4 linked regions of the Homo sapiens genome follow. The protein of the gene in region 2 purifies or fractionates together with the protein of the main gene of each other region. This does not show direct contact. Each region holds a gene or a part of one and is shown on either strand. Other genes may lie near its edges.

Evidence for each region.
Region 1: the proteins of QTRT1 (region 2) and ACSL4 purify together in Homo sapiens (affinity purification with mass spectrometry; one large-scale study listed by BioGRID and IntAct). This does not show direct contact.
Region 3: the proteins of QTRT1 (region 2) and GPR107 purify together in Homo sapiens (affinity purification with mass spectrometry; one large-scale study listed by BioGRID and IntAct). This does not show direct contact.
Region 4: the proteins of QTRT1 (region 2) and CDC42EP4 purify together in Homo sapiens (affinity purification with mass spectrometry; one large-scale study listed by BioGRID and IntAct). This does not show direct contact.

What each region holds. Positions count from the first base shown.
Region 1 is NC_000023.11:109,683,010-109,691,209, forward strand, and holds part of ACSL4 (long-chain-fatty-acid--CoA ligase 4), read right to left. Parts: intron 8,123-8,200; exon of another isoform or gene 7,994-8,122; intron 2,436-7,993; exon of another isoform or gene 2,418-2,435; intron 658-2,417; exon of another isoform or gene 478-657; coding exon of another isoform or gene 355-477; coding exon 127-354; intron 1-126. UniProt on the Homo sapiens protein: Catalyzes the conversion of long-chain fatty acids to their active form acyl-CoA for both synthesis of cellular lipids, and degradation via beta-oxidation. Preferentially activates arachidonate and eicosapentaenoate as substrates.
Region 2 is NC_000019.10:10,702,520-10,710,719, forward strand, and holds part of QTRT1 (queuine tRNA-ribosyltransferase catalytic subunit 1), read left to right. Parts: intron 1-4,782; coding exon 4,783-4,861; intron 4,862-4,980; coding exon 4,981-5,096; intron 5,097-8,200.
Region 3 is NC_000009.12:130,068,838-130,077,037, reverse strand, and holds part of GPR107 (protein GPR107 isoform 3 precursor), read right to left. Parts: intron 1,403-8,200; coding exon 1,289-1,402; intron 627-1,288; coding exon 576-626; intron 1-575. UniProt on the Homo sapiens protein: Has been proposed to act as a receptor for neuronostatin, a peptide derived from the somatostatin/SST precursor.
Region 4 is NC_000017.11:73,283,084-73,290,222, reverse strand, and holds the end of CDC42EP4 (cdc42 effector protein 4), read left to right. Parts: intron 1-3,610; 5' UTR 3,611-3,722; coding exon 3,723-4,793; 3' UTR 4,794-6,599; downstream 6,600-7,139. UniProt on the Homo sapiens protein: Probably involved in the organization of the actin cytoskeleton. May act downstream of CDC42 to induce actin filament assembly leading to cell shape changes. Induces pseudopodia formation, when overexpressed in fibroblasts.

The sequences.
Region 1 (8,200 bases), on a different chromosome or scaffold from region 2:
GGCTTCTGAGTAGTTTTACACAGCACTATAATAGAATGCCAGCATACTTAAAACGCACTCGATTTATGATAAAACAAATGTGTCTTCCTCTTTAAAACATAAATGAAAAGCACCAAAATACTTTACCTTCTTAAAAACTTTTCCATTTGGCTGCATTTCATTTTCTTCACTTAGGATTTCCCTGGTCCCAAGGCTGTCCTTCTTCCCAAACTTGGATACAGCATGGTCAAATAATTTATCCAGAGTATCTGCTCCAGGGATGTCTATTACAGCTAGTGAGTCGAAGTGTGTGACAGAGCGATATGGACTTCCAGGTTTGTCTGAAGTGGGCTTAGCTTTTATTCTCTTTGCCATAGCGTTTTTCTTCTTGGCATTGGTAAGAAAATACCATGGAATAAATATAAGGGCACTGTATATTGTTATTAACAAGTGGACAGGCAGCAAAATAATGGTGAGCACATTTAGCTTAAGTTTCATAGTGGAAAGGCTTCTAAAATGGTGCTTATTTCTTGTTATTCTTTGGCTTTTGAAAGCCTTATTGTGCTGAAGAAGGCAATAATAGAAGCAGCAGTAAGAATAGCAGTACAGCCAAGGCAGTTCAATCTTAGTGATACAGATAAAAGTTAGTAATCTTTGGAAGCCGACAATAAAGTACGCCTGTAGGTGATGACAATGAACCAAGCAGAGAGCAGGAAAAATAAAAACAAAAAACAAAAAACAAAAACAAAAGAATATTAACAAGTTGATAGCACAATTGATTTAAATACTCAGGTCTTTATTAGTTTACACAATTAATTACAGAAAGCTGAAATAACTGGTCTGAAAGGCTGGCATTTTCCATTTGTAATCATTATTGACGTAAATGTCTTTGAGCACATCAACTTCTGAATTTATTTTTTTCTAGGTTTCTAGGTGTACTGGTACTCTGCATATCATTCTGTGAGTTGAATAACAACCTTAATGCTTACACAAATGCATGAATATGATATTTAAGTTTGTCAAAACTTTGGTAGAATAGGGTATGCCAATAATAAGATTTCTCTTAAACATGTGCATGTAAACTAGACATCTTTAAATAGTGTTAGGTTTATATCCAAAGGGGGGGGTGGGGCAGAAACTATCAACTTAGATTTATTTCTCAAAGGTCAACCCAGAAACCTTATTCTGAGTTCTTCATTAAGGTAAATTTCTCAGGTAATGCTATTTACTATCTACTATTTCCCACATGGGAGCAATACAATTGTAAAATCATTTCCTACATGTCCACTTTGTGCTCAAAACTGCACCAGTTGCCTAGGAGTGGTAATACAAGTCTGAAGTAGTATTAATTCCTGGCCCTTGGCCATTATAAGTTAACACTTATGAGTCAACTATCACACAAGATAGATCCAGTATTTTTGCAACTGTTTGGGGGAACGGGGACAGGGGGTGCAATTAAACCATCTCTTCTAATAAACACTACTGGAAACTGCCCATATATAACACTAAAGTGGAGTTGCTCTGGCCAAAACAGGGTTTGGGGATGTCCAGAGTCCTGCCCCAGAATTCCCGGAATCCCAACTCCCAAGGTGACCACTAAAGCATTTCCACTGAAAAGCCTTGTGGTAATACATAACTAATACATAACTACCATGTGCAGTGTAGGCAGTAGTATAAGCAATAAATGCAAAAGGAGTTCAGAGGAAGTGCAAAATGGCCAAGAGTAACTAGGAGAGGCTTTGTGGAGATTAGATTTAAGCTGGACCTTATGTTGGGCATCTAGAAATGAAAGAGGAATGGAAGGTATTCCAGGCTCAGGGACCATATGAAAAAAGATACGAAGGTGGGAATGAAAGGACTTTGGGAGAATAGGAAGTACCAATAGCAAGGACACTAGTCTGACTGGGGCACAGCATACACTAAATACGCTAAATACGCTTGACTAAATACGCTACGGTAGTTACAAAATCTAACAAATCAGGCAAAGTAATTTTGATTGGATTATGTGGAAAGCTGGGGGCTGCTGCAGGTTAGAAAAACAGTGCCATTGGAAAGAAACCGCAGAAACAGGCTCAAGAATAGTAATATTTCTTTTCTTTCTTTTTTTTTTTTTTTTTTTTTTGAGACAAGGTCTCACTTTGTCACACGGGCCAGAGTGCAGTGGCATGATCTCAGCTCACTGCAACCTCTGCCTCCCGGACTCAAAAGATCCTCCCACCTCAGCCTCCCGAGTAGCTGGGAACACAGATGTGCATCACCATGCCTGGCTAGTTTTTTTCCATTTTTTGTAGAGACGGGGTTTTGCCATTGTTGCTCAGGCTGTTCTCAAAATCCTGGACTCAAGCTATCTGCCCTCAATGGCCTCCCAAAGTGCTGGGATTACAGGCGGGGGCCACCACACCCGGCCCAAGAATAGGAACATTTTTTAAGGAGCTTACCTTCAACTGAGAAAGCTACTTCGGTGAGTTGTAGCATATTTCAACCAGAAAAATCAAAATATTAGTTCACTTTGAAGAGACAAACTGAAGCCCATCCTTCTGCAACTTTTGTAGAAACAGACTGACAGACTTAATTCAATTGACCCCAGGCTAGTTGATTGTTTTTATACCATCTAATATAAAATGGTAGCTTAATCCTGCCTGTGCCTTTGTTCATGTAATTTAGTTGAGTACAGTGAAATGAGAAAGAAACTGGAAGTCACTGGGTGTCAATCCTCATCTCTGCCCCTAACTGGCTGTGTAACCTTGAGCAAACCATCTACCTCAGTCTGGGACCACACTAGATCAGCAGGCCTTAACCTCTTAGAGATGATGGGCCTTTTTGAGAATGAGAACGAGGAACCCAATTCCCCTCAGAAAGACATGCTAAATGATACACACAATGTCAAGTGATTCACAAGTTCCTTGAAATCCATCCATGAACTTCAAAGGGCAACAACCCTGAACTAAAAATGTCTGGCCTAGGTGATTCTTAGGGCCTTTCCAGCTTTAAATTCTATGACTTACCCTACTTGGAAAGTACCTTCTTAGTCTCTCGGACAAGTCTGGTCATTCATTTCTTCAAGATAAGGTATGTCATGTCAAGGGTTTATCATAATGCTGAATGTAAGATCCCCTCTAACAATCCTCTCCTCCCACTGAAGATTTCATGGCTACCCAAGTCCAGAACAATCTTTACTTTTTCTAATTTCACACATCATTAGCAATATCTACCACTCAATCTGATACATGATTATACTACCATCACTTCCAAACTTCTGGGTACCACAGTATAGAACACGGACCAGTAGTTCTCAACCATATCAAACCCAGTACCTCTTTCTTATGACAAATATTTTGTGATACCTCTTCATCAACATCAAAGGATAGTCATAATCTACCAACACACCATTTTAAAAAATGATTTCTTACTGGTAATATAAAAGAGTACCATAAAGAAACTAATTTAAAATTTAACAAAATACTTGTTTCAATACATACATTCTCAGAGACAATATTAGCAGACATAAAAGCATGTCTTCAGATTTATAAAATGCCCCTAAGGGGTGAGTACCACCTTACCCTCAATTGAGAAATCTTCAGGCTTAAGGCTGAAAATATATAAAGAAACAGAAAATAGCTTTTGAAGAGCCTGTACTTTAGTTGGATTTAAAATGCATTGTATGTTTTTTAGTTATTGATGTTACATAAATTTAATCTTTTATACATATTTGCCTTAAGTCTTAGAGAAAGAGAAATGCTTTCTAGGTAATCCTCATAGTGCTTAGTACAGACACACACACACGCATGCACACACACACACACACACACACACACACAGTAGGCAAGGCTCAAAGAACATTCAGGTGAGAAGAAACCAGAGAGATCATTTAGTCTAGAGGTTTTCAAATTCTTTCTGCAGGTAGTGAGGGGGTCATGGGTCATCCATTTGAATAAAATCTTATATAGATATAAAAACACAAGCGTAGATGAAAGCAAAAAGCATAGCTGCTCTGGTAGAGGAGGCTATGACAGCCCCTGAAGGGACTCCTTGGAACTTCCAGTTCAGCTGAATATTTGAACCACTGATATTGTCTGAGCCCTCATCTTACAGAGAAGCAAATGAATGGCAGAGCACAAATCGAGCACCCAGTGCTCTTTCAAGTACACTAGCCAGCCTCTGCCCAGTTTTGCCTATCATCTTAAACTATAATACTTCCTTGTCAGGGGTTATACTCAGTCTATTGATAAATTCATTTCAAAAAAGATTTAAACATTTCATTTCACTTCAAAAAAAGAAGAGTTGGTGGTAAGGGTATGATGCTGAGCATCGTACCCATCATTAGGCAAAATATAATGTCTCATAAGAGAAACAACAAAAATTTTCTAGGCTAACAGATCTGGGTTTAAAATGTGGTTCTATGCAGCCATAAAAAACAATGAGTTCATGTCCTTTGCATGGAGATGGATGAAGCTGGAAACCATCATTCTCAGCAAACTAACACAGGAACAGAAAACTTAACACTGCATGTTCTTACTCACAAGTGGAAGTTGAACAATGAGAAAACATGGACACAGGGAGGGTTACATCACACACAGGGGCCTGTCAGGGGATGGAGGGCTAGGGGAGGGATAGCATTAGGAGAAATACCTAACGTAGATGATGGGTTGATGGGTGCAGCAAACCACCATGGCACGTGTATACCTATGTAACAAACCTGCACGTTCTGCACATGTATCCCAGAATTTAAAGTATGATTTAAAAAAGAAAGCTCTATATTAGTGGCTTCATCTGTAAAACAGGAATACTGCTTATATTACCTACTTTATAGTGCTTTTGTGAGAAACCTTTGTCTTCTTCCTCTTAAATTCCATAGGCAATCATACTCAGTCCCTCTTGGTTGTCTCACTTGGTTGTACTTAATCATCTCAACCACAGCCTGGTTCTATCCTATCCAATTCTCCACCTAATCTGTACCTGTACCTATGCAGCTGAATTTGCTGTGAGAAACACATGACTGTGTTGAGTGTCTCACTTTAAACTTGTGATTGCTACCTCAAATGGACTCTCCCTGATGCAGAGAGACCACACCGCACTAGTCCACTCACTGGCCCACTCCTCTGGATTTCATACTTTACTCTCTTCAGACCACCAACATTCCTCATCCAGACTTATTCTCAGCAGCTGACCTATTTTGCAGACAAAACAGCAACAATCCAAAGATAATTTCCACAGACTCTCACTGCTACATCTACCCACCTAATCAAATCTGTGGCCACATGCTGTTTTCTCTCCTGTGACTATGGATGAACTGTTGATGCTCCAAGCTGAGGCCAACCCCTTCATTTATGCATTACACCCTGTCTTTATAAGGACACGGAAGTGCTACTCTACCAATTCTTCCCTCTCGTCCTTCCTCATTAATTTTCCCTGCTCTTCTGAACTATTCCCTTCAGCATCATAACCAGCTGTTATTTCTTTCATCTTAAAAAACATTCCCTCCTTTGCATCTTCTTTTCAGCTATAGCCCATTTATTTTCTATCTCTTTGGCACTCCTTGAAAGAGGTGTCTATGGCTCTCTGTCTCCCAGTTCTCTCCTATTTTCTCTTGAACCCACTACAATCAGGCTTATGTCTCCTACCACTCTATAAACTTGTTCTCCTCATCAGGGTCTCCAATGACTTCCATGCTATTAGATCCAAAGGTCAATTAAAGCTCAGTTCTCTTCTTCCTTGACCCACTGGCAGCCTTTAACACAGCTGAGCCCTCTTCTGCTTTAAACTTCTTCACTTAGCTTCCAGGAAACCATATTCTTCAGGTTTTCTTCCTACTTCCCTGGCTATTCCTTTTCAGTCTTTTTTTTTTTTTCTGCTTCTTCCTCACATTCCTGGCCTCTAAATGGTATGGGGCTTGGTCCTTGAACCTCACAATTTTAAATACCACATATATGTCGTGATGACTTCCAAATTTTTCCTTCAAGCCTGGAAGTCTGCCTTAAACACTAGATTTGTATATCCAACTGTTTCCTCAACAGATCCACTTAGGTGTCAGTTAAATACCTCAAACTTAGCATGTTCAAAACTGAGATCATCCTTCCACAATCCTATCTCACCCAGTCTTGCCCATCTCTATATATTCCACTTGCTTTGACCAAAAACCTTAGATTCACCCTTTTACCCCCCTCTCTTTCTCACACATTCCACAGGCAATTCACCAGCAAATCCTAATGGTTTGACTTACAAAAAAGGTGAATCTAATTCAACTACTTCTTACCACCTCCACTGTTACCATCCTGGTTTAAGCCAATATCATCTCTCATGTGGATAAATGGGATAGCCAATCTAGTCTCCCTGCTTCCATCTCATACCCCTACAATAAATTCTAAACTCAGAAGCCAGAGTACTATTCTCAAAATGTAAGTTAGATCATACCATTCCTCTGCTCAAAATCTTTCAAAGAATTCCCATATGACTCACCCAGAATATAAGCTGAAGTCCTTACTACAACCTACAAGACTATATAGTCTTTCCCCTACCCCAAGGTTCTGACTTCACCTCCTAGTACGCTTTCCCTGGAACATTCTTCTGCAGTCCCATTTGTTCCTGCCCCATGGCCTTTGTACTTGAGGTTCTCTCTGCCTGGAATGTTCTTCCAAGACATCTACGTAGCTTATTCTCTTGCCTCTTTTTTTTTCTTTACTCAAAGAACACCTTCTCAGTGAGGCATTTCTCCAGCCAACTTCTTTTAAAATTGTACTCCCCACACTTTCTATCCCTTACTTGCGTTATTTTTTTCCTGAGTACTTTTACTAATATACCATGTTTTATTTTTCATGTTTACTGTCTATGCTCCCAGTAGAATATAAGCTTCACAAGGCAGAGAGTTTGTCTCATTTGCTGCTGAATCTGTGACTGGAACAGTGCCTCCGTGTGTTGGCTTCAATCAAATTGTTTACTGAATTAAGAATGTACTGGAATTATTCTGAATCTATAAGGTAAAAATATATGCAAGTACAATAACGTGAAGGTAGCTAACTTTAATCATCTTAAAAAACAATCACTTGTCCATGTCAACATCCTAGGAAATACTATACTCTTAAAATCCCTGGTAATTAAAATAAACTTGAACATGTTGTTAGTTGCTTAATAGAAAATATGAAACTGGAAAAACTGCCTGTTGCATAGAGTTGGAAAAGATTGGTGTTATAAAAGCATGAAGGTTACACAATTTGCACTATGTGCATTTTCACTGATAATTTTCACAAAGGTATGCTGTCCTTCCATGTATGAAGAATGATACTGCTATCCCATCATTAGGAGGACATGAACTTTGAGTGGTGCTTCCTTGAAATCATGTATTTGTATGTCAGCCAGAAAAAGGCAGGGCATTATCTTCAGTCATTGGATAGTTAATTGCTCCTGTTGAACTTTACCATTCCATATGGGAATCATAGTAATAACCAGGTATTGAGCATTTACTACAGGCTAGATACTGTGCTAAGTCCTTCAGATATATTATCTCATTTAATCCTTCAGAAAACTCCTTTGAGGTAGTACCTTCATTTTAAAGATATAACAGACTCAGAGAGATTAAGTTGCCCAAGATAGCACAGCTGAGTAGAGATTCGAACCAGGTCGCTTTGATTTTAAAGTCCATGTTTTTAGCTCAATTATCTGTGATCCTAGTAATACTGGTATAATCTAAATAAGTGAGAGTGACAAACTTTGGGTATGAAGAAATACTGGCAACAATTTTGAGCACTAATCTGTCCTACATCCTAAGACATTTTAGGGGGGGGGGGCCTCTATAGATGTCCAGTAAGTACTAGAAGTTTTAGTGAAAAATCAGATTCAATTTTATTTTATTTTTTTGTTCTGAGGTGAGATTTAATAAGTATTTCATTCCAGTTACTTCAAACACTCCGAGATAGGTTAAATACAGAAAGCATTAGTGATACATTAAGCTCTAGTACACAAAGTAAACAAACACTACATATTAATTAAAGTCTGAATTTAAAAGAAGAAATCGTCTTACCCAGAAGCATGTGACACAACACCAATTTGAGAATGAAAGAGAAAAACTACTGAACTGCAGTTGGTTAATGCCAAGATATTTTTTCAAAAGTTTTAGAAAATGAACTAAACCAAGCAAGGATCCATGCATCTGCCAAGTTGAAACATACAGTAGTGACAAATTAACTTTGTCCTTGACATAAGATCTTACAAAAATAGTTTTTAAATC
Region 2 (8,200 bases):
AAGACTGGACGTGGAAGCTCATGCCTGTAATCCCAGCAATTTGGGAAACTGAGGCGGGAAGATCACTTGAGGCCGGGAGTTGGAGACCAGCTTGGGCAATACAGGGAGACCCTGTCTCTACCAAAATAAAAAATAAAAAATAAAAAAAACAAATTAATTGGACAAATATCTGTTGAAATAATGGTGGCAACAAGAGGATTGGGGAGGCTTTAGGCTTCTCCCATATCCTCAATATCCTTCTTTTTTTTTTTTTTTTTTTTTTTTTTTGAGACAGAATTTTGCTCTTGTTGCCCAGGCTGGAGTGCAATTTTGCGATCTGAGCTCACTGCAACCTCTGCCTCCCGGGTTCAAGTGATTCTCCTGACTCAGCCTCCCGAGTAGCTGGGATTACAGGTGTGCGCCACCACACCTGGCTAATTTTGTATTTTTAGTAGAGACAGGGTTTCTCCATGTTGGTTAGGCTACTCTCAAACTCCTGAGCTCAGGTGATCCGCCTGCCTCGGCCTCCCAGAGTGCTGGGATTCCAGGCGTGAGCCACCACACCTGGCTTTTTTTTTTTTTTTTTTTTTTTGAGACAGAGTCGCCCAGGCTGGAGTGCAATGGTGTGATATCCAGTCACTGCAACCTCCACCTCCTGGGTTCAAGTGATTCTCCTGCCTCAGCCTGCTGAGTAGCTGGGATTACAACTGCTTGCCACCATGCCCAGCTAATTTTTGTATTTTTTGTAGAGACGGGTTTCACTATGTTGGCAAGGCTGGTCTCAAACTCCGGACCTCAGGTGATCCACCTGCTTCGGCCTCGCAGAGTGCTGGGATTATAGGTGTGAGCCACCACGCCTGGCCCAATATCCCCATTTCTTGATAAAGAACCATGGCAACACAGGGTCAAAACCCCTCTTCCCCTCATCATTCTAATAGATTGATGCTGTAGGGAGGAAGAAATATTTTTTCTTCTTAGATTCATGGCTGAAGCCCCTATAACAAAAACCCTTATAAGAAAAGAAGCCACGTGCTGGGTGCGGTGGCCACGCCTGTAATCCCAGCACTTTGGGAGGCGGAGGCGCGATCATGACTCACTGCAACAGCTGCCTCCTGGTTCAAGCAATTCGCCTGCCTTAGCCTCCCAAGTAGCTGGGATTACAGGTGCCCGCTACCACACCCAGCTAATTTTTGTATTTTCAGTAGAGATGGGGTTTCACCATGTTGGCCAGGCTGGTTACGAACTCCTGACCTCAAGTGATCTGCCCATCTTGGTCCCCCAAAGTGCTGGGATTACAGGTATGAGCCACTGTGCCCGGCCTATAAGTTTATTTTTTTATGTTTATTTATTTTTATGTATTATTTTGAGACAGAGTCTCACTCTGTCACCCAGGCTAGAGTACAGTGGCACAATCTCAGGTCACTGCAACCTCTGCCTCCTGGCCTCAAGCAATTCTCCTGCCTCAGCCTCCCAAGTAGCTGGGATTACAGGTGCATGCCACCACGCCCAGCTAGTTTTTTGTATTTTTAGTAGAGACAGGGTTTCGCCATGTTGGCCAGGCTGGTCTTGAACTCCTGACCTCAAGCGATCTGCCCGCCTTGGCCTCCCAAAGTGCTGGGATTACAGGTGTGAGCCACCATGCCCGGCCAAATATTTTTTGTAGAGATTAGAGTCTCACTACATTATCTGGGCTGGTCTTGAACTCCTGGCTACAAACAGTCCTTTGCCTTGACCATTCAAAGTGCTCATGTTACAAGCATGAGCCACTGTGCCAGCCCCCATGTGTTTTTTGTTTGTTTGTTTGTTTTTTCTGGAGATGGAGTCTTGCTTAGTCTCCCAGGCTGGAGTGCGGTGGCGCGATCTCGGCTCACTGCAAGCTCCGCCTCCTGGGTTCATGCCATTCTCCTGCCTCAGCCTCCGGAGTAGCTGGGACTACAGGCACCCGCCATTACGCCCAGCTAATTTTTTTGTACTTTTACTAGAGACGGGGTTTCATCGTGTTAGCCAGGATGGTCTCGATCTCCTGACCTCGTGATTCGCCCATCTCGGCCTTCCAAAGTGCTGGGATTACAGGCGTGAGCCACCGCACCCGGCCTCTTTTTTTTTGAAACCGAGTTTCGCTCTTGTTGCCCAGGCTGGAGTGCAATGGCGCAATCTCGGCTCACAGCAACCTCTGCCTCCTGGGTTCAAGCGATTCTCCTGCCTCAGCCTCCCGAGTAGCTGGGATGACAGGCATGCGCCACCATGCCCGGCTAATTTTGTATTTTTGGTAGAGACGGGGTTTCTCCATGTTGGTCAGGCTGGTCTTGAACTCCCGACCTCAGGTGATCCGCCTGCCTCAGCCTCCCAAAGTGCTGGCATTACAGGTGTGAGCCACCATGCCCAGCTAAAGTTCTAGCTTTTTAATGAATGTCGTAATTTTTTTTTTTTTTTTTGATGTGGAATCTCGCTCTGTCACCTAGGCTGGAGTGCAGTGGCTCGATCTTGGCTCACTGCAACCTCTGCTGCCCGGGTTTAAGCTATTCTCCTGCCTCAGCCTCCCCAGCAGCTGGGACTACAGGTGCCTGCCACCACGCCTGGTAATTTTTGTACTTTTAGTAGAGACGGGGTTTCACCTTGTTGGTCAGGCTGGTCTTGAACTCCTGACTTCAGGTGGTCCACCTGCCTCAGCCTCCCAAAGGGCTGGGATTACAGGCGTGAGCCACCGCACCCAGCCCCATATTTATTTTTTCGTCTTTTCTTTTTTTTTTTCTTTTTTGAGAAGGAGTCTCACTCTTTGACCAAGGCTGGAGTGCAGTGGCACTGTGTTGGCTTACTGCAACCTCTGTCTTCTGGGTTCAAGCACTTCTCCTGCTGCAGCCTCCCGAGTAGCTGGGATTACAGGTGCCCATCACCACACCTGGCTAGTTTTTATATTTTTAGTAGAGACGGGGTTTCACCATGTTGGCCAGGCCGGTCTCGAACTCCTGACCTAAGGTGATCCACCCGTCTCGGCCTCCCAAAGTGCTGGGACTACAGGCGTGAGTCACCACGCCTGCCCCTTTTTTTCTTTTTTGAGACACAATCTCGCTCTGTCACCCGGGCTGGAGTACTGTGGTGCAATCTCGGCTCACTGCAACCTTTGCTTCCTGGGTTCAAGCGATTCTCCTGCCTCAGCCTCCCAAGTAGCTGGGACTTCAGGTGCATGCCACCATGCCGGGCTAATTTTTGTATTTGTTGTAGAGACAGGGTTTCACCATATTGGCCAGGGTGGTCTTGAACTCCCGATCTCAAGTGATTGACCTGCTTTGGCCTCCCAAAGTGCTGGGGTTACAGGCGCAAGCCACCAGGCCTGGCCTGTTCTTTTTTTTTTTTTTTTTTTTTTTTTTTTTTGTGGAGACAGAGTCTCGCTCTGTCACTCAGGCTGGAGTGTAGTGGTGCGATCTCGGCTCACTGCAAGCTTCACCTCCCGGGTGCACACCATTCTCCTGCCTCAGTTCCCGAGTAGCTGGGACTACAGGTGACCGCCACCACGCCCGGCTAATTTTTTGTATTTTTAGCAGAGACAGGGTTTCACTGTGTTCGCCAGGATGGTGTCAATCTCCTGACCTGGTGATCCACACGCCTTGGCCTCCCAAAGTGCTGGGATTACAGGCGTGAGCCACTGCGCCCGGCTGTGGCCTGTTCTTTTTTATTTTAAATTGTTTTCATCTATTTATTTTCTTAATAATGGAGATGGGGTCTCTCTGTGTTGCCCAGGGTGGTCTCGAACTCCTGGGCTCTAGTGATCCTTCCGCCTGGGCCTTCCAAAGTGTTTGGATTATAGGTCATCAAGTTTCATTTTATGCCACTAAACCACTATGCTGTGCACCGTGGCTCATGCCTATAATCTTAGCACTTTTGTTTTGTTTTTGAGACGGTGTCTCGCTCTGTCGCCTTGGCTGGAGTACAGTGGTGCAATCTTAGCTCACCGCAACCTCCGTCTTCCGGGTTCAAGCGATTCTCCTGCCTCAGCCTCTTGAGTAGCTGGGATTACAGGAATATACCACCACGCCCGGCTAATTTTTGTATTTTTAGTAGAGACGGGGTTTCACCACCTTGGCCAGGCTGGTCTCGAACTCCTGACCTCAAATGATCCACCTGGGTTGGCCTTCCAAAGTGCTGAGATGACAAGCGTGAGCCATCGCGCCTGTTTTTTTTTTTTTAACCTTTTTTTTTTTTTTTTAACACAGCCTTGCTCTGTCATCCAGGCTGGAGTGCAGTGGCACAATCTTGGCTCACTGCTACCTCTGTCTCCCAGATTCAAGCTATTCTCCTGTCTCTGCCTTCCAAGCAGCTGGGAATACAGGCACGTGCCATCATACCTGGCTAATTTTTGTGTTTTTAGGAGAGATGGGGTTTCACCATGTTGGCGAGGCTGGTCTTGAACTCCTGACCTCAGATGACCTGCCTGCCTCGGCGTCCCCAAGTGCTGGGATTACAGGCGTAGTCACTGCGCCCAGTCAGCAGAGCCCTGCTGATGGACGTTTGGTTTCCCGGTCTTGCTGTGGCACGCCACATAGCAAGGGATCCCTTTGTATATTTTAGGATTTTATTTTGTGTAACAGGATAGGATTTTAAGCTGGGGAGAGGCAGGATCAAAGGCACATTCTGTAAAGCTCCTTCTGGCTGCTGTATAAACAGACCGGGAAAGTCACGTGGGAGTTAGCAAGACGGGGGATGGGGGGATGCTCTTGGGGAAGTCCAACTTGTCCCCATGTGACGGCAGGCTTTCCCCAAGCATTGCGGGCTTTCCCAGTGATGTTGCCCCCATCTCACCATCAGGCTCGGACATCATCATGCAGCTGGACGACGTGGTTAGCAGTACTGTGACTGGGCCACGTGTGGAGGAGGCCATGTACAGGTGTGTATATGCTGTGTGCATGTGTGGGATATGTGGTGGGAGGGGATCCTGGTCCCTGTAGCCTTGTCTCCTACCCCCTCACCAGGCCCCTGGGGCTTGTGACTGGGGCCCTGTTGCAGGTCAATCCGCTGGCTGGACCGGTGCATTGCAGCCCATCAGCGGCCGGACAAGCAGAACCTCTTCGCCATTATCCAGGGTGGGCTGGACGCAGATCTCCGGGCCACCTGCCTTGAAGGTAGAGCCATGCGCTGGCAGGCCCAGGGCTTGGCCATCGCGGAGGTCCCCACATGGGCCTGGCGTATGGCGGGACTGGATTGCTAATGTGTAGAAGGGCACTGCGCTAGAAAAAATAGCCGGAGCAAAGGCTCTCGGGCCACGTGCAGTAGAATGTATTGAGAGAATGGCCATGATTCCAGTAGTTAATGATCTTCTAGGTTTTTTGTTTGTTTGTTTTTGTTTTTTTTTTTGAGACGGAGTCTCAGGTGATCCACCCCCCTTGGCCTCCCAAAGTGCTGGGATTATAGTCATGAGCCACCGCGCCCAGCCTATTTATGTATTTATTTATTTTACTTTTTTTTTTTTTGGAGGGTGGAGTCTTGCACTGTCGCCCAGGCTGGAGTGCTGTGGCGCGATCTCGGCTCACTGCAACCTCTGCCTCCCTGCAACCTCCGCCTCCCGGGTTCAATCTATTCTCCTGCCTCAGCCTCCTGAGTAGCTGGGACTACAGGCACCCGCCACCAGGCCCGGCTAATTTTTGTATTTTTAGTAGAGACAGGGTTTCACCATTTTGGCCAGGCTGGTTTCAAACTCCTGACCTTGTGATCTGCCTGCCTCGGCCTCCCAAAGTGCTGGGATTACAGGCGTGAGCCACCGTACCTGGCCTCTTTATTTATTTTTGAGACACGGTCTTACTCTGTTGCTCCTCCTGGAGTGCAGTGGCTAGGTCAAAGCTCACTGCAGCCTCAAACTCCTGGGATCAAGCAGTCCTGCTTCAGCTTTCCAAAGTGCTTGGAATATAGGTGCACGCCGGTGTGTCCAGCCATGCATTACCTTTTACATGCAATGCTTTCTGGTGTTTTCTTTTCTCTTTCATTTAAAAACAACGACAACAACCCGTGCGTCATCAAAGTCATTTCTCAACCACCTGCAGTTTGACAAGCACCGCCCCATGGGGTGCTTCTCAAAGTGCTCTGAGGCTTACCTGCCCCAGCACAAACTACTGAAAGTCCTGGTAAAATGCAGCTCCCCTTCCCATGATCCGACCAGAGTTGGAGCTAGGGAAGGCCTAGGAATCTGCATGTAAACACCCTGTGTCCAGTTGGAGGATGCTCACATTACCTTCAAAACCTGGCCCCAGACAACGCCTGCATTCCTTTTTTTTTTTTTCTTTTTTTTTTTTTTTGAGACGGAGTTTCGCTCTTGTTGCCCAGGCTGGAGTGCAGTGGCGTGATCTCAGGTCACTGCAACCTCCACCTTCCGGTTTCAAGTGATTCTCCTGCCTCAGCCTCCTGAGTAGCTGAGATTACAGGCATGCACCACCATGCCTGGCTAATTTTTGTATTTTTAGTAGGGACAGGGTTTCACCATGTTGGCTAGGCTGGTCTTGAACTCCTGACCTCGTGATCCACCCCCACCTTGGCCTCCAGAGTGCTGGGATTACAGGCTTGAGCCACTGCACCTGGCCAACACCTGCGTTCTTGATGGCATGGCCTCTTCGGGTTGAACTGGGCAGCTGGGGCACAAGATAAGCCTGGACTTGGAGGCCAGACCCAGGTTTGAATCCAGCCTTTGGCATATGTAGCCTTGGACTAGTGGTTTAAGCTCTGCAAGCCTCAATTTCCTCTTGTTTCAGGCAAGTTGAACAATAGCACAATTCTGCAGCCCCTTCTGTGTCATCCAGGTCCTCAGAGCGAAAGTCTAAAATCCAGAACATTGGCCGGGTACCATAGCTCACACCTGAATCCCAGCACTTTAGGAGGCCAAGGCAAGAGGATTGCTTGAGACCAGTCTGGGTGACATAGTGAGATCCCATCTCTAAAAAAAGAGAATTGGGCCAGGCACGCTGGCTCACGCCTGTAATCCCAGTACTTTGTGAGGCCAAGGCGGGCAGATCACGTGGTCAGGAGTTCGAGACCAGCCTGGCCAACATGGTAAAACCCCGTTTCTACTAAAAATACAAAAATTAGGCCGGGCGTGGTGGCTCGCGCCTGTAATCCCAGCACTTTGGGAGGCTGAGGCGGGCAAATCATTGAGGTCGGGAGATCGAGACCAACCTGGCTAACACGGTGAAACCCCATCTCTACTAAAAAATAGAAAAAATTAGCTGGGCGTGGTGGCGGGCGCCTGTAGTCTCAGCTACTCGGGAGGCCGAGGCAGGAGAATGGCGTGAACCTGGGAGACAGAGCTTGCAGTGAGCCGAGATTGTGCCACTGCACTCCAGCCTGGGCAACAAAGTGAGACTCCATCTCAAAAAAAAAAAAATTAGCCAGGCATGGTGGTGGGCACCTGTAATCTTAGCTACTCGGGAGGCTGAGGCAGGAGAATCATTTGAACCCGGGAGGTGGAGGTTACAGTGAGCTGAGATCACACCACTGCACTCCAGCCTGGGCGACAGAGCAAGAATCTGTCTCAAAAAAAAAGAAAAAAAGAAAATTAGCACGCAAGCATGGGAGTGTGTGCCTGTGATCCTAGATACTTGGGAGGCTGAGGTGGGAGGATCGCTTGAGCCCAGGGGTTGGTGGCTGCAGTGAGCTATGATGACATCACTGTACTGCAGTCTGGGTAACACAGTGAGACCCTGTCTCAAAAAAAAAGAAGAAAAGAAAAGAGAAAAAACTTAGAATGCCCTGAAAAATTTGCAACTCATTTCATGGCTAACTTAGATCTCTCATTTTTTATCCCAGTTGTTACAAGTATTCACATATTTTTATTTTTATTTATTTTTTATTTTTTTGAGATGGAGTTTTGCTCTTGTTGTCCAGGCTGGAGTGCAGTGGCACCATCTCGGCTCACTGCAACCTCTGCCTTCTGGTTTCAAGCGATTCTCCTGCTTCAGCCTCCCGAGTAGCTGGGATTACAGGCACCAGCCACCACGCCTGGCCAATTTTTGTATTTTTAGTAGGGATGGGGTTTCACCATGTTGGCCAGGCTGGTCTCGAACTCCTGACCTCGTGATCCACCTGCCTTGGCCTCCCAAAGTGCTGGGATTACAGGCGTGAGCCATGTGCCCAGCCTATTTTTATTTTTTAAATTTTACTTTGGCCGGGCGTGGTGGCTCATGCCTGTAATCCTGGCACTTTGGGAGGCTGCAGTGGGCGGATTACCTGAGGTCAGGAGTTC
Region 3 (8,200 bases), on a different chromosome or scaffold from region 2:
CGGGCACCTGCAGTCCCAGCTACTCAGGAGGATGAGGCAGAAGAATCACTTGAACGAGGGAGGCGGAGGTTGCAGTGAGCCAAGATCACACCATTGCACTCCAGCCTCGGCAACAAGAGTGAGACTCTGTCTCAAAAAAAAAAACAAAAAACAAAAGTAAACCAACTGTGGGTTCTCAAAAATGCTTGGAAGTCAAAGCAGCCACTACCTCAAGAAATGGCGCTGTGGCCAGGCGTGGTGCTCACGCCTGCAGTCCTAGCACTCTGGGAGGCCACAGTGGGTGGATCCCTTGAGTCCAGGAGTTTGAGACATGGCCAACAAAATGTGAAACCCTGTCTCTACTAAAAATACAAAAATTAGGCAGGCGTGGTGGCACACGCTGGTAGTCCCAGCTACTCAGGGGACTGAGGCGGGAGGATCGCTTAAGCCTGGGAGGTCAAGGTTGCAGTGAGCTATGATTGTGCCACCGTACTCCAAAAAAAAAATGAAAATGGAACTGCAAGAAGTAGGGTGTTCCCGTTCAATGGCCTGGGCTCAGGTGAAGAGATGAATCAGGTCACACATTTAATACTCACCAGGTAAGAAGAAAAGCCATCATTCTTTGTACGGTCTAGGCTAAATCCAATCTAATGGGGAGTAAAAACAGTAGAAGTAAATATCTACACAATTGTCCATACTTTTCTTACTCAAAAAGCAGAAAAAGTGGTACTTCTAACGTGGTCTCCTCTGTTTTCTTAGCATTCATTTTGTAAGAAGGCAAAGTAAAATCACTCAAGCAAAGTCACTAATTACTAGAATTATTACAGAATTACATTTTAAGTGTTAAAAGTGAAATTATTTGATGCCTGATATATAATTTGCTACTCACATGCTTAATTATCTCCATATTCTGGTATTTTATATTTAAGCATTGGGGTTGGAAGGTGACTCTCACCTAAGCTAAAAGAGTAAACCCCTGGGCTGGGCGCAGTGGCTCACACCTGTAATCCCAGCACTTTGGGAGGCCAAGGCGGGTGGATCACGAGGTCAGGAATTCAAGACCAGCCTGGCCAAGTTGGTGAAACCCCGTCTCTACTAAAAATACAAAAATTAGACGGTCATGGTGGTGGGTGCCTGTAATCCCAGCTACTCGGGAGGCTGAGGCAGAGAACTGCTTGAACCCGGGAGGTGGAGGTTGCAGTGAGCTGAGATTGCGCCACCGCACTCCAGCCTGGGTGACAGAGCAAGACTCCATCTCAAAAAAAAAAAAAAAAGAGTAAACCCCTGGATCTCATTAAAAGGTACTTACAGTCACATCCTTGTCTTCAGGCTCATTCAGTGAGAGGCTACTGACATTCACCACCATGTACCCATCCTTGAAGAAGCCAAAGGTGTTCAGATGAACTTTATGCCTCACATCATCCTAAAGAGATTTGTAGTGGTGGAATTAGTCATATGGAAAAGTGCTTTTGATTATTTAACCTATTCATTTGCTTTAAAAAGTATGATATCAGGCTGGGCACGGTGGCTCAAGCCTGTAATCCCACCACTTTGGGAGACTGAGGCGGGTGGATCACCTGAGGTCAGGAGTTTGAGACCACACTGGCCAACATGGCGAAACCCTGTCTCTACTAAAAATACAAAAAGTTAGCCGGGCATGGTGGCGGGCACCTGTAATCCCAGCTACTTGGGAAGCTGAGCCAGCAGAATTGCTTGAACCTGGGAGGTGGAGGTTGCAGTGAGCCGAGATCATGCCACTGCACTCTAGCTTGGGTGACGGAGCAAGACTCTGTCTCAAAAAAAAAAAAAAAAAAAAAGGTAAAAGAAAAGAAGAGAAAAACTATGATATCTTATTTCTTGCTAGCCAGCCAATGTTTCCATATGCTCAGTAACATACACAGCTGTGGTAACATGTCTTTCTCCAAAAGCTGAAGACAACTCATCGGAAATCCAAAAGATATCAACAGTTTCTGCAGAAGGAAGTATTCAATGGATTCAAATTCACTCCAATGCATTGGTATGGGTTCTAGGGGCAAACTCAGTGGTTGGCTGAAATGTGAATTCCAGGGCAGGAGGAACCATGTTATCGTCATCCCCACATCCTTCCTGATAGTACAATGCCTGGCATCTAGTAGGCACTCAAAACATGCTGGGGGGTGGGGAGGAAGAAAAGGAGCGGCTGAAGCTGTTCCAAGAATACACTCATTTATATAAATCCTCTTATCAATTTGTGTGTACCTGGCTCCTCCCATTGGCAGGATAAAGAATGAAGCTAAGCTATAAGTCAATTATTTAAAAAGGTGAATTTTCACCTAAAAGTGATACAGTAGATGATGGGTTTTCAGGGAACAAAGCCTTATGCAAGAGGAATCCCAGGAATAGGAATTAGCGACATGGAGACAGAGTCTTTTGGATACAAGATAATCCTAAGGTTTGGTGAGACTGAATCACATGGGCAGACGCCTACCCCACCTGCTTGATGCTGTCTCAACATCCTGACTCCAATCTCAACTAAGTCAGTACACTGCAGGGCCAACAGAGCAATGGTGTCAGTGAACACTTCTAAAACTGGGCTTCCACAAACACACTTTATGTTGTGTAACAATTTTTATATTGAGATTTGGCTAAATTGCAACACCTTCCGTAAGTCTGCAATTTGATTCTTGGTGTGAAGGGTAACTTTTTATTTCTAGATTTGGGGTTTCCTGGACATCCCGGGTAGTCTAATGGCAAACACCAAAGGCCTGTGAGGACAGGCTGTGGAGCAGATCTTTGGCAGAAACAGCATAAACTAAATCCCCTCCTCTCCCCCACAGAACTACACCACACTGCACTATCACTAGCAGGATTTTCTTTCCTGCCCACTCTTGCATTCATAGCTTTTTGACAGCCCTAGATTATGGGCTGAGAAGCAGAGGGACACAGTTCCAACTCACCTCCCTGCTCAGGCCTAAGGCTATGGTCCCTGTTTCCCCTCAACATCTGTTAAAAACCCAGGACTCGGCCGGGCGTGGTGGCTCACGCCTGTAATCCCAGCACTTTGGGAGGCCGAGGCAGGAGGATCACTTGGGGTCAGGAGTTCGAGACCAGCCTGGCCAAAATGGGAAACCCTGTCTCTACTAAAAATACAAAAAAATTAGCCGGGCATTGTGGCACATGCCTGTAATCCCAGCTACTTGGGAGGCTGAGGCAGGAGAATCACTTGAACCCGGGAAGCAGAGGTTGCAGTGAGCCGAGATCGTGCCATGGCACTCCAGCCTGGGTGACACAGTGAGACTCTGTCTCAAAAACAACAACAACAAACAAACAAAACAAACAAAAAACCCAGGCCTCTGGGCTTCAAGTTTCTGCAACGTCACAGGGAAGCCCTGGCTTCCCTGTTCTTTCCCCAATGGAGTTTCAGCTCCTTCTTCCCTTTTTTGGGCCCCTGGGAATTTCCCTTATTTTCTTAGGAGCTTGGCTATGTGGTGAAAACATGTTTGCTGGATTTCCACTTCCTGGTGGGCTGGAGTGGCTTGCAGCAAACCAACATTCTCACAGAGAACAATTAGAAAAGCCAGATAAGATAACAGAGGTCATCTCCTGGAATCTACAAGAGTGGGTCAATGGTAAAAGCCAGAAAAGCTAAGGCTCCCAGCCTTTCTTGGAATTCTCTGAGAGAATTAAACCCACGGAAAATGTCTTCAGTATCTATTTTCTCAATTCTCTCAAGGACAGTATATGATGACTACCCTCCTAGAGGCACAGGAGACATTAACTCAACTACATAAATGGATGCCTTAGCACATTAGGGCTTCATTCTCTGGCAGAATCCTCAGTGGAGCAGGACTGCAGAGGGAGAGGATGAGGGAAAATGAACACACAATTTCTGCCACATAAAACAACGTATATGAATCACAGCCATATTCATGTAAAACAAACTGGAATGCAGGGGGAAATCATCTGTGGTGACGGAGGTGAAGACAGTGACCACTCTCAGGAGAAAGGGGCTTTCCTGGGACTTGAGGGAAGGTGAGGCTTAGGGTGCTTCTGGAGGGGCTTGGTAATGGTTCTGCCTCATTTCCTGCGGGCTGCATGAGTGTGTCTACGTTCTGGAAATGCGCTGAGTTGTTTGCTTATAATGAGTAATTTTTAGCCATGTATATTACATTTCAATAAAGTTTTAATTTTAAAAGTATGTCTTTTCTAATTGGTCCAGCATGAAGCTGCTTTGCAGCAGAATGGAAACCTGCTAGGCTTTCATTTATACTTAGGCCACCACAATACAGGTTTTCTTGTTGTTTTGTTTTTTTTTTCCAGAAAATGTTTCGATTGCAACCTGATAGCAGTTCCCCCCCCAACATAAATAGTACATTCCTTTTTTTTAAACCTTTGCATCATCATTTCATTTGATGATACAATGCCATGAAAAACAGGTTTTTGAAGACTATTTTAAACAATAAAAACAGCATCGGCTGGGCACGATGGCTCATGGCAGTAATCCCAGCACTTTGGGAGGCCAAAGCAGGCAGATCACCTGAGGTCAAGAGTTCGAGATCAAGGCCGGGCGCGGTGGCTCACACCTGTAATCCCGGCACTTTGGGAGGCCGAGGCAGGCAGATCACAAGGTCAGGAGATTGAGACCATCCTGGCTAACACGGTGAAACCTCATCTGTACTAAAAACACAAAAAATTAGCTGGGCGAGGTGGCACGCGCCTGTAGTCCCAGCTACTCGGGAGGCTGAGGCAGGAGAATGGCGTGAACCCCAGGGGGCGGAGCCTGCAGTGAGCCGAGATCACGCCACTGCACTCCAGCCTGGGCGACAGCGAGACTCCATCTCAAAAAAAAAAAAAAATTAAATAAATAAAAAAATAAATAAATAGAAAGAGTTCAAGATCAGCCTGGCCAACATGGTGAAACCCCATATCTACTAAATACAAAAATTAGCCAGGTGTGGTGGTGTGTGCCTGTAATCCCAGCTACTTGGTAGGCTGAGGCAGAAGTGCTTGAACCGAGGAGGCAGAGGCTGCAGGGAGCCGGGTTGTACCACTGCACTCCAGTCTGGGAAACAGAGCAAGACTGTCTCAAAAATAATAATAATAAGGCTGGATTACGCCTGTAATCCCAGCACTTTGGGAGGCCGCGGCGGACGGATCACCTGAGGTCAGGAGTTTGAGACCAGCCTGGCCAACATGGTGAAACCCCGTCTCTACTAAAAGTACAAAAATAAGCCAGGCTTGCTGGCAGGCATCTGTTAATCCCAGCTACTTGGGAGGCTGAGGCAGGAGAATCGCCTGAACCTGGGAGGCAGAGGTTGCAGTAAGCGGAGATTGCACCATTGCACTCCAGCCTGGGGGACAAGAGCAAGACTTTATCGCAAAAAACAAAACAAAACAAAAATAGTAATAATAATAATAATGATAATAACAACAGCATCACAACTCCCAGTTTTCAGAGTCTTCCAAGAACTAGGTTATGTGCCAAGGGCTTTACCTATGATTTCTGACCCTCGCTCAGCTCAGTGTGGTTAAGAGAAGCAGCCCCACGGTAGCGATGAAGACACCAGTTCAGAGGAGAAATGACTACCTGAGGCCAAGCAGACTATAGCTAATAAAGCTGGGGCTTCAAACTAGATCTGATATGAGAGCCATTTTCACATTATCATTTCCTAACAAGGGAAAGTAATCATGATACAACATTAAATGTAAAAAGCTATATTCAGTAACATTTGATAGAAAAAAAAAGGGTGAGGGGCCAGGCGAGGTGGCTCTCGCCTATAATCCCAACATTTTGGGAGACTGAGGCAGGCAGACTGCTTGAGCCCAGGAGTTTGAAACCACCCTAGGCAACAGAGAAACCCCATCTCTAGCAAAAAAAAAAAAAAAAATTAGCCAGTTGTGGTGGCATCCTAGCTATTCAGGAGGCTGAAGTGGGACGATTGCTTTAGCCCAGGATGTCGAGGCTGCAGTGGGCTGGGACTGCATCACTGCACTCCAGCCTGCGCCACAGAGTGTGACTCTGTCTCAAAAAAAAAAAAAAAAAAGAAAAAAAAAAAGTTAGGACTGGGCCTGGTGACTCTCATCTATAATCCCAACACTTTGGGAGGCTGAGGTGGGAGGGTCACTTGAGGACAGGAGTTCAAGACCAGCCTGGGCAACACAGAAAGACCCCCACCTCTACAAAACATTTTAAAATTTGGCCAGGCGTGGTGGCATGCAACTGTAGCCACAGCTACTGGGGATGCTGAGATGGAGGATCCCCTGAGCCCAGATGTTTGAGGCTACTGTGAGCTATGATTACACCACTGCACTCCAGCCTGGGAGACAAAGCAAGGCTATCTCCAAAAAAAAGAAAAAAAGAAAAAAAAATTGTTACCCACAATCCCACTGGCACTGACTTTTTTATACTTTCGTGAATTTCTTTCAAGTCTTTCATAAATAAGGGCAAATATATATCCTTTCAACTTTTTCTTTTTGGCTAGGCGCGGTGGCTCACGCCTGTAATCCCAGCACTTTGGGGGGTCAAGGCAGGTGGTTCACCTGAGGTCTGGAGTTTGAGGCCCTCCTGGCCAACATGGCGAAACCTCATCTCTACAAAAAATACAAAAAGTAGCCAAGCATGGTGACACATGCCTGTAATCCCAGCTACGTGGGAGGCTGAGGCAGGAGAATAACTTGAACCTGGGAGGCGGAGCTTATAGTGAGCCGAGATCACGCCACCGCACTCTAGCTTGGGCGAAAGAGCGAGACTCTGTCTCAAAATAAATAATAAATAAATAGCCAGGAGTAATAGCAGGTGCCTGTGATGCTAGCTACTCAGGAGGCTAATGCAGAAGGATCACTTGAGCCCCGTATTTTAAGGCCGGCCTGGGCAACATGGTGAAAACCCATCTCTACCAAAAAAAAAAAAAAAAAATTAGCCGGGTGTGGTGGTGCAAGCCTATGGTCCCAGCTACTCAAGAGGCTGAGGTGGGAGGACAGTTTGGGCCCACGAGGCCAAATGAGCCAAGATCATGCCACTGCACTCCAGCCTGGGCAACAGAGCAAGACCCTGTCTCAAAAAAATTTAAAAAAAAAAAAAAAAAAAAAAAAAAAGAGGCCAGGCACGGTGGCTTATGCCTGTAATCTCAGCACGATGGGAGGCCAAGGTGGGCAGATACCCTTAGGTCAGTTTGAGACCAGCCTGGCCAACATGATGAAACCCCATCTCTACTAAAAATACAAAAATTTGCCGGGTGTGGTGGTGCATGCCTGTAGTCCCAGCTACTAGAGAAGCTGAGGCAAGAGAATCGCTTGAACCCGGGAGGCAGAGTTTTCAGTGAGCTGAGATCGTGCCACTGCACTCCAGCATGGGTGACAGAGTGAGACTCTGTCTCAAAAAATAAATAAAATAAAAAGAAAGAAAGTACTGTTGCCAATAATATCTGTAGGACCTTCACCTAACCTGTTCCCCACCTCCATTTTAAGCTATCGTGTCATGTCAAATAAGATATGTATGGAAGTGACTTCGTAAACTATACCTCACTATAAAAGTCATAGAGGCATAGATATCTTGAGACTGAAGAAAGTACAAGCGAGGAGGATGTGACAAAGCAGCATGAGGATAACAATACCAGATACAAGCAATGGAGATACAGCTACCTTCTCCACTTCCACCCTATCATTTCCATTAGCACTGACACAGGCAATGGAGGTTCAGCTACATTCTCAAACTCCAGCCTATCATTTCCATTAGCACTGACACCGTGGTAAAGGGTGCCTGTTTCACCAAGGATTTCAGAGACTGCAAGCACTTGACCTTGTCTCCAGTACTACACTAAGAGCTTCATACATCACCTCAAGTTCTTACAACTCTATGAGGCAAGTAGCCTCAAACATGTCCATTTGGTAGATGAGGAAACAGAGGCTCAGAGTTAAAACTTGCATAAAATCATTAGGCTAGTAGATGGCAGGGCCAGTAACCTAACTCAGAATTAAGTCCCAAATCTATTTTTTTAACTACCACATACTTTTTACAACCAAATAAAAAGTATATCCTAGGGCAGGGCACGCTGGCTCACACCTGTAATCCCAGCACTTTGGGAGGCCGAGGCAGGCAGATCACTTGAGCTGAGGAGTTTGAGACCAGCCTGGGCAACATGGTGAAACCCCATCTCTGCCAAAAATACAAAAAATTAGCTGGGTGTGGCAGTGTGCACCTGTGGTCCCAGCTACTCAGAAGGCTGAGGATCACTTGAACCCA
Region 4 (7,139 bases), on a different chromosome or scaffold from region 2:
GGGCTAAAAACCTGGATAAATCACTTTCCTTCAATAAACTTGTTTCCTCATCCATAAAGTGAAAGTGCTGCACTGAATATCCCCTCCAGTTCTTTGAGATTCCTGGATGCTGTGCGTAGAGCCAGGAGTCGGGGTGCAGGCAGGTGGAAGATGGGGTCCCCTCCGTTCCTGACTGGTGTCCCTGCTGGTGGCAGTAGAAGCCTGAAGGATTTGCCAGGAACGAGAGTTCGTTTGAAGCTTGGCCTTTTTCCCTTCTATGCCCAACGTGACTGAGGCAGAGTCTACCTTCTCTTTTTCTTTTTCTTTTCTTCTGCTGCTTCTTTTTCTCTTTCTTTCCTTCCTTGCTTTTCTTTTCCTTTCTTCCTTTCTTCTCTTCCTTTCCTTTCCTTCTTTCCTTTCTTTTTCTTTCTCTCTTTCTTTTTTTCTTTCCTTATTTCCTTTCCTTCCTTCCTTTCCTTCCCCTCCCTTCCTCCCTCCCTTCCTCCCTCCCTCCCTTCCTCCCTTCCTGTTTTCTTCAGAGTTTTGCCTAGGAGCCCATGGCTGGCCAAGAGGGTCATATATGATATTCAGGAGTCAGCAAACTACAGTCCATGGGCCAAACCCAGCCTGCGTTTGCTTTTGTAAATAAAGATGTGGCTTTTTGGTGGTTTTTTTTCTTTTACTGGTTTATTACAAAAGATACGACTCAGGAACAGCCAAACGGAAGAGCTGCATGAGGATGCGTGGGGTCAAGTGTTGGGGTGGGGGGCAGGGCACGCACCACCTTCCTGGCACCTCGATCTGCTCACCAACCCAGAAGTTGTCTGTAAATAAAATGTTATTGGAACATAGCCATGCCTACTTGTTTACATGTTGCTATGGCTCCTTTCTTTCTTTTTTTGATTTTGTGTAGAGATGGGGTCTCACCGTGTTGCCCAGGCTGGTCTGGAACTCCTGGGCTCAACTGATCCTCCTGCCGTAGCCTCCCAGAGTGCTGGGATTACAGTTGTGACCCACTGTGCCCGGCCAACGGCTAGTTTTATACTAAGAAGACAGTTGAGTAGCTGTGACAAAAACCCTATCAGCCACAAGGCCGAGAATATTTACTCTCTGGCCCTTTGCAAAAAGTGTTTGCTGACCTTTGGTCTAGCGGTTCAATGTCTAATTGTTTAGAGGTTGAGGTGGGGCAGGAGGGTGGGGCCCAGAGATAATCCAAGTTAGAGTTAGGGGAAGGTCACTTTCCTAAGGGTAGGGAGGAGAGAGAGCTGACCTATGACCCAGAGTAGAGTATCATCTCAAGGCATCCCTCACGTCCTCGCCCACGTCACTGTGTGGCAAGTCTGCCAGGTGCCTGGCTCCCCCTCCCTGCCCGAGAGAACTTTGTGTTTGCTGGAATGATAAGCGGTATGGCGTGGGCACTGGGAGGGGGGACATTGCTGGTGGGGGAAGCCATGAGGCTGGGCAGCAGAGGCTTGAGAGAACAGGGAAGCGGATGGGGGTGAGGATGCAGAGAGGTCAGGCTGGGAGCCCTGGAGCCAGGCTGTGGGCAGAAGGGGAGGAGAGGAGGGAGGTGCTGGACTTCCAGTGGGTGCTTGGAGGCGGTTGGAGGCGGACCATGTGTCACACCCTGCTGGACCAGACTCGGTGGTAAACAGACCTGTTAAAACCCTCTGGATGGACCAGGCGCGGTGGCTCACGCTGATCCCACGTCCTGATCCCAGCACTGGGAGGCCGAGGTGGGTGGATCACCTGAGGTCAGGAGTTCGAGACCAGCCTGACCAACATGGTGAAACTCCATCTCTATCTCTACTAAAATTACAAAAAAAAAAAAAAAATAGCTGGACGTGGTGGTGTGCACCTGTAAATCTCAGCTACTCAGGAGACTGAGGCAAGAGAATCGCTAGAACCCGGGAGGCAGAAGTTGCAGTGAGCCAAGATCATGCCATTACACTCCGGCCTGGGGGACAGGGCGAGAATCTGCCTCAAAACCCTAGAAGTTTGTACTGCAGTGGGAAGATGAGAGTCCAGCCAGCAGGGACAGAATAATGTAGCCAGTATCTGCTGGAAGAGGGGACATCTCCCAAAGTGCCGTGGGGGGCAGGTGGTGGCTAAAGGTTTCCTGGGAGTAGTGATGTGTCCCAGCTGAGCCCTGAAGGATGCTGGGTGTGGCAGGGGTTGCATTGGGGAACTGTTTGTATCCACTGCAGCTCAGGGGATAGATCAGGGTACAAAAGTAGGGGACACTGAGGAGCGAGGTGGGGACTAGTCATTGGATCAAGGGGTCTGCACTGGGTAGGGCGTCATGTGGATGGGTTTTGTTTTAGCCAAGAGGTGAAGGATGGACAGGAGGGAGACCAACAGGGAGACCTGTCAGGCTGATGTCAGGGGCCAGGTGGGGTGTGGTGGGCTTGTGTGACGCAGCGGCAGGCATGCGGAGGAAGCACCCAGCATCTGAGTTTTGCAGTGGGAAGAGTGGGTCTGGACTGGGGGTGCCTCTCAGAACTGTGCTGCTGGCTGGACTGGGAGGCAGGCAGGTACCTGGTGTCCAAGCATCACCTCTCACCCACCATACTTTGTTAAATCCCTGCACCCATCTCTCCCCAACCTGCCCAGCTCTGCTGGGCTTAGTATTTGGGGCAAGCCCCTCTAGGGAAGAGAGGGGCTGGTTTGGCCCCAATGCTGAACTTCAACTTGGCCCTTGTCAGGAGCTGTGAGAGTGGTGCCTCCAGGCTCCTGGGCTCTACCTCTGCTGTTTTTTGGATTTCTGGTGAATCACCTAGGAATCAGTCTGCAGATCCTGGGGGGACGAAGTCATTTAGGGTCCAGTCCCTGCCTCCCACTCCCCTAATGATGAAAGAAACTGGAAGTTGCCCAATCTTGATCTCCCCGAGACACCAGAAGGTGGACCCTCAGCAAAGAGCCTGGGGCTCCACAGTGGAGACGTCACAGGCGGGATCCTCATTTATGGGATACCAAGCGAAGGCTGAAAGGCTGGGGAGCTGGTTCTGTGGGTCCCAGCAGCCCCACCCCAGTTCTGATTCAGAAAGAGGACTGTGCCGCCCACGCAGGGGGAGGAGCTGGTCAGCCTCTGTCTCCCTGAGCCCGTCCTGTCCTTTCCCTTCTCTCTCTGAGGACCAGGACTCAGGGTGGGGTGTCCACTAACTCCACAGGGATCGAGGTTAGACAGCAGGAAGAACTTACAGCACATCTCCAGGCTGACTGTTCATAGGAGCCAACTCATAGACTCCATCTCTTCCCTGGCTTGCTGCCTGGAATTGCTGGATTTACCTTCGCGTCCTTAAATGTGGTCATGTTTACTCTGGCAGCATCCTGGCTTGCAGGGGCAGGGGAGGCATTGTCTTCTGCAAGAAAGGTTCTGTCTCTCTCAAGTTTCAGGGAAAGTGTGTCCGAGGCTACTGGAACTCTAACCAGATTTGCAAAATCACTCCTCTACTCTGAATGCCTGCGGATGAAGAAACAGGCAGGGTTATACCATGGATTGCTGGCTTATTTCACAGCATTTAACTTTGGTAGGAGCGCTGGGGTTTAAATGACAGTCCCCTGGCAAAGAGGCTTTTGTGCCGTGTGGCCAGCCCGCGTTAATCCTTTGCCTCTCATTCTCTGCTTGCAGCCTTATGATCTCCTCATTGCGTCCCCCTCTGCCCACTGGACTTGGACTTCAGATCTGACCCCAGACCTGCCGGCTACCTCGGGAGGGCCCACCTCCCCGCCCATCCAGCAAGATGCCAATCCTCAAGCAACTGGTGTCCAGCTCGGTGCACTCCAAGCGCCGTTCCCGAGCGGACCTCACGGCCGAGATGATCAGCGCCCCGCTGGGCGACTTCCGCCACACCATGCACGTTGGCCGGGCCGGAGACGCCTTTGGGGACACCTCCTTCCTCAATAGCAAGGCTGGCGAGCCCGACGGCGAGTCCTTGGACGAACAGCCCTCTTCTTCATCTTCCAAACGCAGTCTCCTGTCCAGGAAGTTCCGGGGCAGCAAGCGGTCACAGTCGGTGACCAGGGGGGAGCGGGAGCAGCGTGACATGCTGGGCTCCCTGCGGGACTCGGCCCTGTTTGTCAAGAATGCCATGTCCCTGCCCCAGCTCAATGAGAAGGAGGCCGCGGAGAAGGGCACCAGTAAGCTGCCCAAGAGCCTGTCATCCAGCCCCGTGAAGAAGGCCAATGACGGGGAGGGCGGCGATGAGGAGGCGGGCACGGAGGAGGCAGTGCCCCGTCGGAATGGGGCCGCGGGTCCACATTCCCCTGACCCCCTCCTCGATGAGCAGGCCTTTGGGGATCTGACAGATCTGCCTGTCGTGCCCAAGGCCACGTACGGGCTGAAGCATGCGGAGTCCATCATGTCCTTCCACATCGACCTGGGGCCCTCCATGCTGGGTGACGTCCTCAGCATCATGGACAAGGAGGAGTGGGACCCCGAGGAGGGGGAGGGTGGTTACCATGGCGATGAGGGCGCCGCTGGCACCATCACCCAGGCTCCCCCGTACGCCGTGGCGGCCCCTCCCCTGGCAAGGCAGGAAGGCAAGGCTGGCCCAGACTTGCCCTCCCTCCCCTCCCATGCTCTGGAGGATGAGGGGTGGGCAGCAGCGGCCCCCAGCCCCGGCTCAGCCCGCAGCATGGGCAGCCACACCACACGGGACAGCAGCTCCCTCTCCAGCTGCACCTCAGGCATCCTGGAGGAGCGCAGCCCTGCCTTCCGGGGGCCGGACAGGGCCCGGGCTGCTGTCTCAAGACAGCCAGACAAGGAGTTCTCCTTCATGGATGAGGAGGAGGAGGATGAAATCCGTGTGTGAGGCGGACAGTGGGTGGCCACCGGGAGCTCTTGGCTGCATCTTCTCCCTGCCCCCACCCCACTATGACCTTTGACCCTACGGCGCAGGGGCAGCCAGGACCCTTGATTCAGACCATGGACCCTGGACCTTGTAGATGAGGGACACTGGCCTGGCCCTCGGGTCTTCGGAGGACGTAGGGGGCTGGCATGGGTGCCGACTGGCTGCCTGACTTCATCATGCTCCCTGCACTTAGGCTGCGTGGGACAAGGGCTGTGTTGTCACAGCAGGAATAGGTTTTCCTCTGTTGGCCTCCCTTTCCTCCACCCTGGCCTCAAATGGATGCCAGATGCCAACCCCAGTTCTGGCCACGTACAGCCAGCGGGTCAGCCCAGAGGCAGCCTCAGCTCCAGGGCTAAGGACTCTCGGCTCCCATTTTCTCTGCTGGCGTTTCTGCTGTGCCCAGCAGTGGCTGCTGGGGAAGCAGCTGCAGCAGGAGGGAGACGGTCTTGCCTCTCAGCCCCTCCCTGCCCCACCCCAGCTCCTGCCCTGGAAATCTGGAGCCCCTTGGAGCTGAGCTGGACGGGGGGCCAGCTGCGAGCATGTGCACTAAACGCAGCCCTTTCCAGGGGAAGAGAACAGGATGGAGAATGGAAGGAAAGCCCCCCAGGCTTCGTGAATTGCAAGAAGGGACCCTTCCAGGATGACACTAGGAACAGGGCTAGGGCACTCGCTCAGTCCCTAGGGGCTTGTTTGTTCTTTATTATTGTGTTTAAATCCTTATAGAGCAATATCAGGATGGTGTTAATAGGTCTGCCTCAGAATGAGAATCAATCCTTTTAGAAAACCTTTATACTAAGCCTCCTCTTCAAAATTCACAGTGGCGATTAGCGGACTGGAGTCTGGTGGCGATTAGCGGACTGGAGTCTGGGGACATCCGTGGCAAAGACACCAGCTCAACTTTAGTGCTTCCCAACTTTATTTAGAATGACATGGGGTGGGTGTCTGGTGTGTGTGTTTTCCCTACGCACCTCCCATAGCTATTAACAACTGAGGAAGGCCAGTGCAGAATATTTTTGGAGAACGATTTTTTTTTTAAATAATATATCATTCCTATGGGGGGAAAGCCTTTTTTTTCTTTTTGGCTGAGTTATTCCCTCCCTCCCCTCAATACCCTCAGTACTGACTACTTCCCTTTCTTTTCTCAGGCCTCCCCCCACCGACTTTTGAGGCCAGGGTTGGCCAGATTTAGCAAAACCAAAACAGAGTGCTGAGTTAAACGCAAATTTCAGGTAAACAAAAGATAATTTTCTAGCATTAATATGCCCCACGCAATATTTGGAACACTTATGTGAAAAATGATTTGTTTTTCTGAAATTCACGTTTCTCTCTGAGTCCTGTAACTGTCCCCGAGGGGATTGAGCAGAAGCTCGGGTATGAGCCCTGAGGTTGACTGCCGGTTATTTTTCTGTCCTGGGAACAGCCTGACCCACCTCCCTGTCTCCATGTAGCCAGTGAGGGGAGGGGGAGACACAGAACCAACCACAGCCAGGGGCGTCCCCATGGCGACTGTGGCCCGGCCCCTCCTCTCTTGCCTGACTCTCCTCTCTTGCCTGACTCTAGACACTAACTTAGTTCCAGGTTCGGTGCCCTGTTGGTGCTCCTGTTTCCAATAGCTTAGGTCCCATGGTGGGGGAGGAACCTCAGGGGCTATGCAGCCCCCGCCAGCTGCCCTCGAATCCCGTCCAGGCCAATTCCAGATTCTAAACTGATTTTTTTCATGATATTGTCAAAACAGTGAGGAAACATTAAAAAAAAAGCCCTAAAGCACGCCTGGTGTCTGTCTCTGCTTTTTGGGAGGGCTATTTCAGGATGGGGGTGGGGTCTGGACCCAGGTCCTAGAGCTGTCCAGGGGGGCCTGAGGTGGCTTCTGTCTCTCTGTCCGTGAGGACCCGCCCTTCCTGCGATGCTGTCTGCCTGGGCAGGCCCCTTCAGAGTCTGGGGACTCAGGTGTCCCTAACTGCCATCTCTTGGAAGCCCTTGGCACTTGGTCGCTTAGCTGTTCTGTGCCTCCCTCTCCTGCTCTGTAAAATGGGTATCCTGCCACTCTTAGAGGGTTGAGGCACAGAAACAGTGACATGGGCTTTTTGTGGGGGAGGGGGTTGGTTTTTTGTTTTTTTTTGTTTTTTTTTTTTGTTGTTGTTGTTTTGTTTTTTTTGAGATGGAGTCTCACTCTGTCGCCCAGGTTGGAGTGCAGGGGTGTGATCTCAGCTCACTGCAACCTCCGCTTCCTAGGTGCAAGCGATTCTCCTGCCTCAGCCTCCCAACTAGCTAGGATTACAGGCGTGCGCCACTACACCCAGCTAATTT